2 linked regions of the Homo sapiens genome follow. The protein of the gene in region 2 purifies or fractionates together with the protein of the main gene of each other region. This does not show direct contact. Each region holds a gene or a part of one and is shown on either strand. Other genes may lie near its edges. The genes, in order: PKLR and MRAS.

Region 1 (4,460 bases), on a different chromosome or scaffold from region 2:
GTGCAATGGCACGATCTTGGCTCACCGCAACCTCCGCCTCCCAGGTTCAAGCAATTCTCCTGCCTTAGCCTCCTGAGTAGCTGGGATTACAGGCATGCACCACCATGCCCGGATAATTTTTTGTATTTTTAGTAGAGACGGGGTTTCTCCATGTTGAGGCTGGTCTCGAACTCCTGACCTCAGGTGATCCGCCCGCCTCGGCCTCCCAAAGTGCTGGGATTACAGGCGTGAGCCACCGCGCCCAGCTTTTTTTTCTTTTTTTAAAAACAAACAAACAAACAAACAGAGTTTCGCTCTTGTTGCCCAAACTGGAGTGCAATGGCGTGATCTTGGCTCACTGCAATCTCTGTCTCCCGGGTTCAAGCGATTCCCCTGCCTCAGCCTCCCGAGTAGCTGGGATTATAGGCACATGCCACCATGCCTGGCTAATTTTTTGTATTTTTAGTAGAAACAGAGTTTCACCACATTAGCCAGGCTGGTCTCGGACCCCTGACCTCAGGTGATCCACCTGCCTCAGCCTCCCAAAGTGCTGGGATTATAGGCAAGAGCCACCATGCCCGGCCAACTTTCACTCCTTTCTTTCTTTCTTTCTTTCTTTCTTTCTTTCTTTCTTTCTTTCTTTCTTTCTTTCTTTCTTTCTTTCTTTCTTTCTTTCTCTTTCTTTCTTTCTTTCCTTCCTTCCTTCCTTCCTTCTTTCTTTTCTTTCTTTCTTTCTTGCCTGCTTGCTTTCTTTCCTTCCTTCCTTCCCTCCCTCCCTCCCTCCTTCCTTCCTTCCTTCTTTCTCTCTCTCTTTCTTTCTTTCTTTCCTTCTTTCTTTCTTTCTCTCTTTCTCTCTAGGGTCTCGTCTGTCACCTAGGCTGGAGTACAGTGGCTCGATCATGACTCACTGCAGCCGTGACCTCCTGGGCTTAAGTGATCCTCCCACCTCAGCCTCCTGAGTAGCTGGGACTACAGGCATGCACCACCACACTCAACTAAGTTTTGTATTTTTTGTAGAGATGGGTTTTGCCATTTACCCAGACTGGTCTCAAACTCCTGGGCTCAAGCGATCTGCCAACCTTGGCCTCCTAAAGTGCTGGGATTACAGGCATGAGCCACTGAGCCCAGCCCACTTTTTTTTTTTTTTTTTTTTTTTTTTTTTTGTGAGATGGAGTTTTTCTCCTGTTGCCCAGGCTGGAATGCAATGGTGTGATCTCGGCTCACCACAGTCTCCGCCTCCTGGGTTCAAGCGATTCTCCTGCCTCAGCCTCCTGAGTAGCTGGGATTGCAGGCACGCACCACCATGCCCGGCTAATTTTGTATTTTTAGTAGAGACGGGGTTTCTCCATGTTGGTCAGGCTAGTCTCGAACTCCTGACCTCAAGTGATCTGCCCACCTGGGCCTCCCAACATGCTGCGATTACAGGCATGAGCCACCATGCCCGGCCTCACTTTCTAACGGAATAAATAATTTACTTATTTTAAATAATTTATTGTGCTTACTATTTATTGTCATACTCAGCTAGACTGTCAGCTCCCCAAGGGTAGGGATTTTTGTCTGTTTTTTTCACTGATCTACTCCCAGGGCCCAAAATCTTGTCTACTATATGCTCAACAAATTTTTGTTAAATGAATGACTGTGTCAAACATGGAGAAGTCTCAAAGGAGACAAAAGATGAAGAAGCACCTCAAGAAATACCAATAGGCCCTGTGTGGCTGCAGGGGGATGGGAGTGCTTACCGATGGTGGCAATGATGCTGGTACTGCGAGCAGCCACGGGCTCGGAGTCAATGTCCAGTAGGCAGAGGTGTTCCAGGAAGGTGTCTGCCATAGCAGCTGGCAGCTGCTGCTGCTGGAAGAAGGCAGTGCCCAGCTCCTGGGTCAGTTGGGCCACACTGGCCCGCCGCAGATACCCCGCTGGCCCTGTGGTAGAAGGGGGCTCAGGGACTGCATGTCACCTGCCCTTCCTCCCCATGCCTTCGTCTCTCAGCATACCCTCTGTTCCTTCCCTTCTTATGAGCTGGGCATCATGCATATATTATTTTATTATGTCACAAGGATCCTATAAAGCAGGTACTGTTAAATGTTCTATAATTATCCAATTTTATGGATAAAGAAACAGAGGCTGAGAAACAGGAAATAAATGGTCCAATATTATACAGCTTCTAAGTATGGATCAGCTAGGATTCAAATCTAGGTCTGACTAACTCTAGCCCAAGTTCTTGACCACTCAGTTATACTGACCCCGCACAACCCAGGACCCCCCGACCTGCAGCTACTGATGACCCTCAACCCCACCACCCCTTGATGTCTAGTCCCCAGCAGCCTCACCCTATGCAGACCCAGAATCACCCAGTTCCTGCTCCAAAGGTCTCTGTTTTCTCCCTTCCAACCCCTGGCTACTGGCTGGCTTCCCCACCCCATCCTCTGAGTCTCCCCAGGCTTCTCAAAGCTGCTACAGACACAGAGGTCCCTGTAGCTTGACCCATCCCAGTTCAGAGGAGCCCCCGATTCCAGCCGCACCTTCCATGCCACTGCACACCTCTCTGGGTCTCCCTCTCTGTGGGTCTGCTCCACACTGTTGGGTTGTCAGAGGCATGAGGCCCAGCTGGGCTGGGGATCAGTTCTGCAGACTGGTTAAAGTGTCACCACTGTCTCCTGTTCCATTGGAAGCCCTGTATGCCAGGGGCCAGAGTCCAGGAACCACGGGAGTGCCCCGTGGCTTACATGCTGTGGCTCTGGCCTGCCTATAGGGCCTGGAAAAGACCCAGGCCAGGGTCCATAATTTAACACACGGGAGGCTCTGAAGAACGTACGTTCCTCTCCAAAACCCACCTAGCCAGTGGCTGATGTGGATCATTTATGCCCTCCACCCTGGCTCCTAGTTTTCACCCTCATTTTCCTCCTATGTTCCATGGCTTCTGTCTCCCCTTCTTACCTCCTGGAGCCCCAATCAGGATGGACTTTGCTAAGTCTCTTTGGGACTTAGAGACCCATGACCGAAGCTGCAGGGATGATATGTTCTCCTGGATCGACATGCTTTCAGTGTGGGCCTGGGGCTGCGGGACCATGGAATGAGAGGGAGAGGATGACAAAACTGCTGGTCTTATCTAAGGGAGACAGAGAAGAGAAAAGGGGCACACCCAGTAGGCCACCCTGTCCCCACAGAATCCCTCCCCCAGAACGGCCTGCTCTCTGCCCTCATCTCCTGGCATTTCCTCTCATCCTTTTTTCCTGATAAATTTTCAATCCATTCATACTATCTGGTCATCCACGTGAATAGATATTTTTTTTTTGGCCAGTCATATGGCCCCATTTTCTTTGTACTTTACTGAAGTTAGCTCTAGTGAATCCAGGGAGCAGGGGCTGTAGGGTGGGGCTGGAGCCTGAAGAAAGACAAAAGGGATCACTGTGATAATATGGTGGGGGGAGGGTTACCCAGTTCTGACCACTTTTTTTCTCTGTCTCAACCAAGAAATGCAGAGTGCCTTCACCACTCTGTAACCTGGCCAGCTGCATGTTTTCGCCTACATGTTTGAACCCAAGATGGTACCTTGAACATTCTCAGACACTGATAAACTTGATTAGGTTGTTGCTGGAAACACTGAAAGATCGACTATTTTGCTAAACTTATAGACTCCTACCCCCAGGGAAATTTTCTTTCCTCCCTCCCTTCCTTCCTTTTTTCTTTTTCTTTTTTCTTTTTTTTCTTTTTTTTTTCACAGAGTCTCACTCTGTCGCCCAGGCTGGAGTGCAGTGGCGCAATCTCAGTTCATTGCAACCTCTGCGATCCTCCTGCCTCAGCCTACCGAGTAGCTGGGATTACAGACGTGCACCACCACACCCAGCTAATTTTGTTTTTCTTTTTTCTTTTCTTTTCTTTTTTTTTTTTTTTTTGAGACTGAGTCTGACTCTGTTGCCCAGGTTGGAGTGCAGTGGCGTGATCTTGGCTCACTGCAACTTCTGCCTCCTGGGTTCAAGCGATTATCCTGTCTCAGCCTCCTGAGTAGCTGGGATTACAGGCATGCACCACCACGCCTGGCTAATTTTTGTATTTTTAGTAGAGACGGGGTTTCACCATGTTGGTCAGGCTGGTCTCGAACTCCTGACCTCAGGTGATCTGCCCGCCACAGCTTCCCAAAGTGCTGGGATTACAGGTGTGAGCCACTGTGCCTGGCCTAATTTTTGTATTTTTAGTAAAGATGGGGTTTCACCATGTTGTCCAGGCTGGTCTCCAACTCCTGGCCTCAAGTATCCACCAGCCTCGGCCTCTCAAACTGGTGGGATTACAGGTGTGAGCCATCATGCCCAGCCTTGTTTTCTTTCTTTTTTTTTTAAAGGGTCTCACTCTGTCACCCTGGCTGGAGTGCACTCGTGTGATCATGGCTCACTGTAGCCTTGACTTCCTGGGCTCCAACGATCCTCCCACCTCAGCCTCCCAAGTAGCCAGTACTACAGGTGTGCACCACCATGCCTGGCTAC
Region 2 (3,811 bases):
ATGCCAGCACTTTGGGAGGCCGAGGTGGGCAGATCACCTGAGGTCAGGAGTTCGAGACCAACCTAGCCAAGATGGTGAAACCCCATCTCTACTAAAAATACAAAAATTAGCCGAGCGTGTTGGCAGGTGCCTGTAATTTCAGCTACTTGGGAGGCTTAGGCAGGAGAATTGCTTGAACCCGGGAGGGGGAGGTTGCAGTGATCGTGCCACTGAACTCTAGTCTGCCCAACAAGTGTGAGACTCCGTCTCAAAAAAAAAAAAAAAAAAAAAAAAGACATTCTGTCATTTGCAGCAACATGGATGGAACTGGAGGTCATTATGTTAAGTGAAACAAGCCAGGCACAGAAAGACAAATATTGCATGCTCTCACTGATATGTGGGAGCTAAAACAGTGGATTTCATGGAGGTAGAGAGTGGAATGATTGACATCAAAGGCTGGGAAGGGTGTGTGGGTGGGGGGATGAAGAGAAGTTGGTTAATGGGTACAGAAATACAAAGAGAAGGAATAAGTTCTAGTATTTGATAGCACAGTAGGGAAATTATAGTTAACAATAATTCATTGCAAATTTCAAAATAGCTAGAAGAGAAGAATTGTAATGTTCCCAATACAAAGAAAGAATGTTTGAGGTGATGGATATGCTAATTACCTGGATTTGATCATTACCATGCCCTCAAAATATGTATGAATATGATATCAATAAAAGAAAAGGGAGCAAGCAGAATAGTGGTTGCCAGGGACTGAGGAGAGGGGAGAATGGGGAGTCAGTGTTTAATAGGTACAGAGTTTCAGTTGAGGAAGGTGAAAAGGTTCTGGAGATGAATGGCAGGGATGGTTGTAGAACAAAGTGAATGCACTATGCACTTAGAGATGGTTAAGATGGTAACTTTTATGTTATGTACACTTTATCACAATAAAACAAACAAACACAAAACTCTATGGCTCTGCCGAAGGTTTGGGGCTTCCTGATTCATGACAAGAGAGAATTGGGGTGAGGGCAGTCACACAGCTGAAAGCCAAGGTGAGGTGGTGTTCCAAAGTCAGAGACAGGAGGAGAGGGCTGAGAGCATGGAGATGGGACAGCCGAAGCAAACCCCACAGTGGAGAAGCAGGGACCAGACGGGGAGGAAGAGAGGCTCCGAGGGTTGGGCCCTTGACAATATAAAGTGAGATGAGGATCCCGAACCCTTGCAGGAAAGAACTCAGAGCAGGCTTGCTCCAAAGCCTGGGGGTCCCACAGCCACAGGAGAGCCTGGCTGCTGGCCCCTGAGGCCAGCCAGCTCTTGTCTCTTAGGTTCTGGGAGGACACAGGCAATGTGACTTCCTGGAAGAAAACAAGAAACAGGTTTGCAAGAAAGCAGGCAGCCTGTGAGAATAATCAGTGTGGAAGTCACAGAGAAGGCTTCCTTAAGCAGCTTGCAAATCTCTGACGTGAGACTGAGATCACAACCGGAGCACCTGGTTCTCTGAAGGACCCTGGGTGAGGAGTAAGAAGGGCAGAAGAGGTATGATAGTTCAGCCACACCCACTTCTTCCTGGGACTTCAGCTCCCCTTCCCAGAGGCACAAGGATCCACTGTGCTGTGGGGGAGGATTTTCCTACACAACCAGACTGACAGTGGGTAGGAGTCAACAGGTAGCTCAAACTGTTGCTGGTTGTGTGAAACTTTTGCTGTATTTTCTTCAACTATAAAACAGAAATAACAACAGCAACTACCACGATAGCATTTGTAAGGATTCAAAGACAGCAAATGCAATGTGCTTAGCACGGGCCTTCCACACAGTTTCTGCCCATTCAATACCCCGTCATCAAAATTATCATTCTCTTCCTTCTCCTCATCATCGTGCTGCCACGTTTTTATTCTTTCTGAGTTTGGAAGAAGAGAAACTGCAGAGTTGAGATCCCCTGGAGTTCAGTGGGGTACAGGGCAACTGAGGGCACCTCCAGGCTTAGCACCTCCCCGAAGATGGCATGGCCTCAGGGGAGCAGGACCCCTGGGATCCAGATGCCCAGGGAAGTCCTGGCCATCTGAGGGGTGCAGACCACTCCAGAAAAGTTCAGCCCCAGAAAGGTTCAGAGTTACTCACTGCAACCTCCGCCTCCTGGGTTCAGGCAATTCTCCTGCCTCAGGCTCCCGAGTAGCTGAGATGACAGGCGCCACCAGGCCTGGCTAATTTTTTTTGTATTTTTAGTAGAAGCGGGGTTTCACTATGTTGGTCAGGCTGGTCTCAAACTCCTGACCTCGTGATCCACCCACCTCGGCCTCACAAAGTGGTGGGATTACAGGCGTGAGCCACCGCACCCGGCCAAGTCTTCCTTTTCTTAATAGCAGATCTAATGGAGTGGAGAAGCATCTAATCTGGGAATCTGGTGTCTATTCCCGAGGAAGGCCTGGGTGGGCAATGCCCTAAATCGGGCCTGACTCTGGTGGCAGAATTAGAAGCTTAACAAACTCATTCTTCTAAAGTAATGCCATGGAGAGCCCAGGCATTCAGAACACAGGCTTTGCAAATGCACACTTCTAATATAATGCTGCGGCCATGTTTCCCCTCTCCCTGCTGCTCCTGCTATAAATGTTGAGGAAAACATTCAATCTTGAGGAAAACATTTTTCCTCAGAAACCAATTTAACATCCAAAGGTACTCAGGAAAAAGTCAGAGAAGTTTATATGGCTGTAGAGAGAAATACTGATTGAGTTCCAACGATGTACCAGGCATGGTGTTACTTTCTTACATGCATTATGCAATGTGTTTCAGAATGTTCTCTATGGAACATAGTTCAGAATCACGTGCAAAAAATGACCCCTGTGGGAAGCTCTAAGGACAATGTATCCTATCACTACACCTCTAATATGTGTTTGCATGTTAAAAGTTCTTGTAAGTCCTGCAGTGAAGAAACTTGTTTACATTTATTTAACTCAGTATATCCCAAAGTGTGCCATATATTCCAATAGGTGATGCATGAAATGATTTTAGAAAGTGCACAGATGTAAGTTTTAATTTTAATAGTTATATATACTTATTATTGTAATGTGAGTTAGAAAAAAATAATATAGCTAGCACATCAAACCTTTCACTACACATATATTGTTCAAGGTTTATTCTTTCATTTGGTCATTCCACAAATGTTTACTGGGGAGCTACTATGAGCCAAGCAGTATTCTAGATGCTAGGAATAATGCAGTCAGTAAATAAAGTCCCTGCTCTCAGACATTTATATTTTAGTCAGCAGAGACAAAAACACAAACAAAGATAAAATATGTCCAACCATAAAAGGCAGAATAAAGAAGAACAGAGTTGGGCATAGAAATGACTGGGGTGGGGTGGATACTAGTGTCAATGGTTTGGTCAGGGAAGACCTCTTAGATAAAGTGACATTTGAGCTGAGACCTAAATGAAATCAGTGTTTCTGCAGGAACAATGTTCTAGGCAGAGAGAAGACAAAATGCAAAGTCCCAAGATGGGAAGGTGCTTGGTACCTGTTCAAATTGTTCAAAGTCCCAGGGCTGCAGACAAACCCTTGGAGGACGGTGCTTTTTAAAATTGAGATACAATCTACATGCCATAATATTAATACTTTAAAAGTATATAATTCAGTGCTTTTAAAACATATTTACAAAGTTTTTTTGTTTTGTTTTGTTTTTTTGAGAGGGAGTCTCACTCTGTTGCCCAGGCTGGAGTGAGGTGGCGCAGTCTCGGCTCACTGCAATCTTTGCCTCCTGAGCTCAAGTGATTCTCCCACCTCAGCCACCCGAGGCTAATTTTTATATTTTTAGTTGAGATGGGGTTTCACCACGTTGCCCAGGCAAGTCTC

Evidence for each region.
Region 1: the proteins of MRAS (region 2) and PKLR purify together in Homo sapiens (affinity purification with mass spectrometry; one large-scale study listed by BioGRID and IntAct). This does not show direct contact.

The regions. Positions count from the first base shown.
Region 1 is NC_000001.11:155,298,380-155,302,839, forward strand, and holds the start of PKLR (pyruvate kinase PKLR), read right to left. Parts: upstream 3,060-4,460; 5' UTR 3,017-3,059; coding exon 2,917-3,016; intron 2,574-2,916; exon of another isoform or gene 2,509-2,573; coding exon of another isoform or gene 2,502-2,508; intron 1,902-2,501; coding exon 1,719-1,901; intron 1-1,718. UniProt on the Homo sapiens protein: Pyruvate kinase that catalyzes the conversion of phosphoenolpyruvate to pyruvate with the synthesis of ATP, and which plays a key role in glycolysis.
Region 2 is NC_000003.12:138,375,820-138,379,630, reverse strand, and holds part of MRAS (ras-related protein M-Ras isoform 1 precursor), read right to left. Parts: intron 1-3,811. UniProt on the Homo sapiens protein: Signal transducer in the Ras-MAPK signaling pathway that regulates cell proliferation and survival. Core component of the SHOC2-MRAS-PP1c (SMP) holophosphatase complex that regulates the MAPK pathway activation.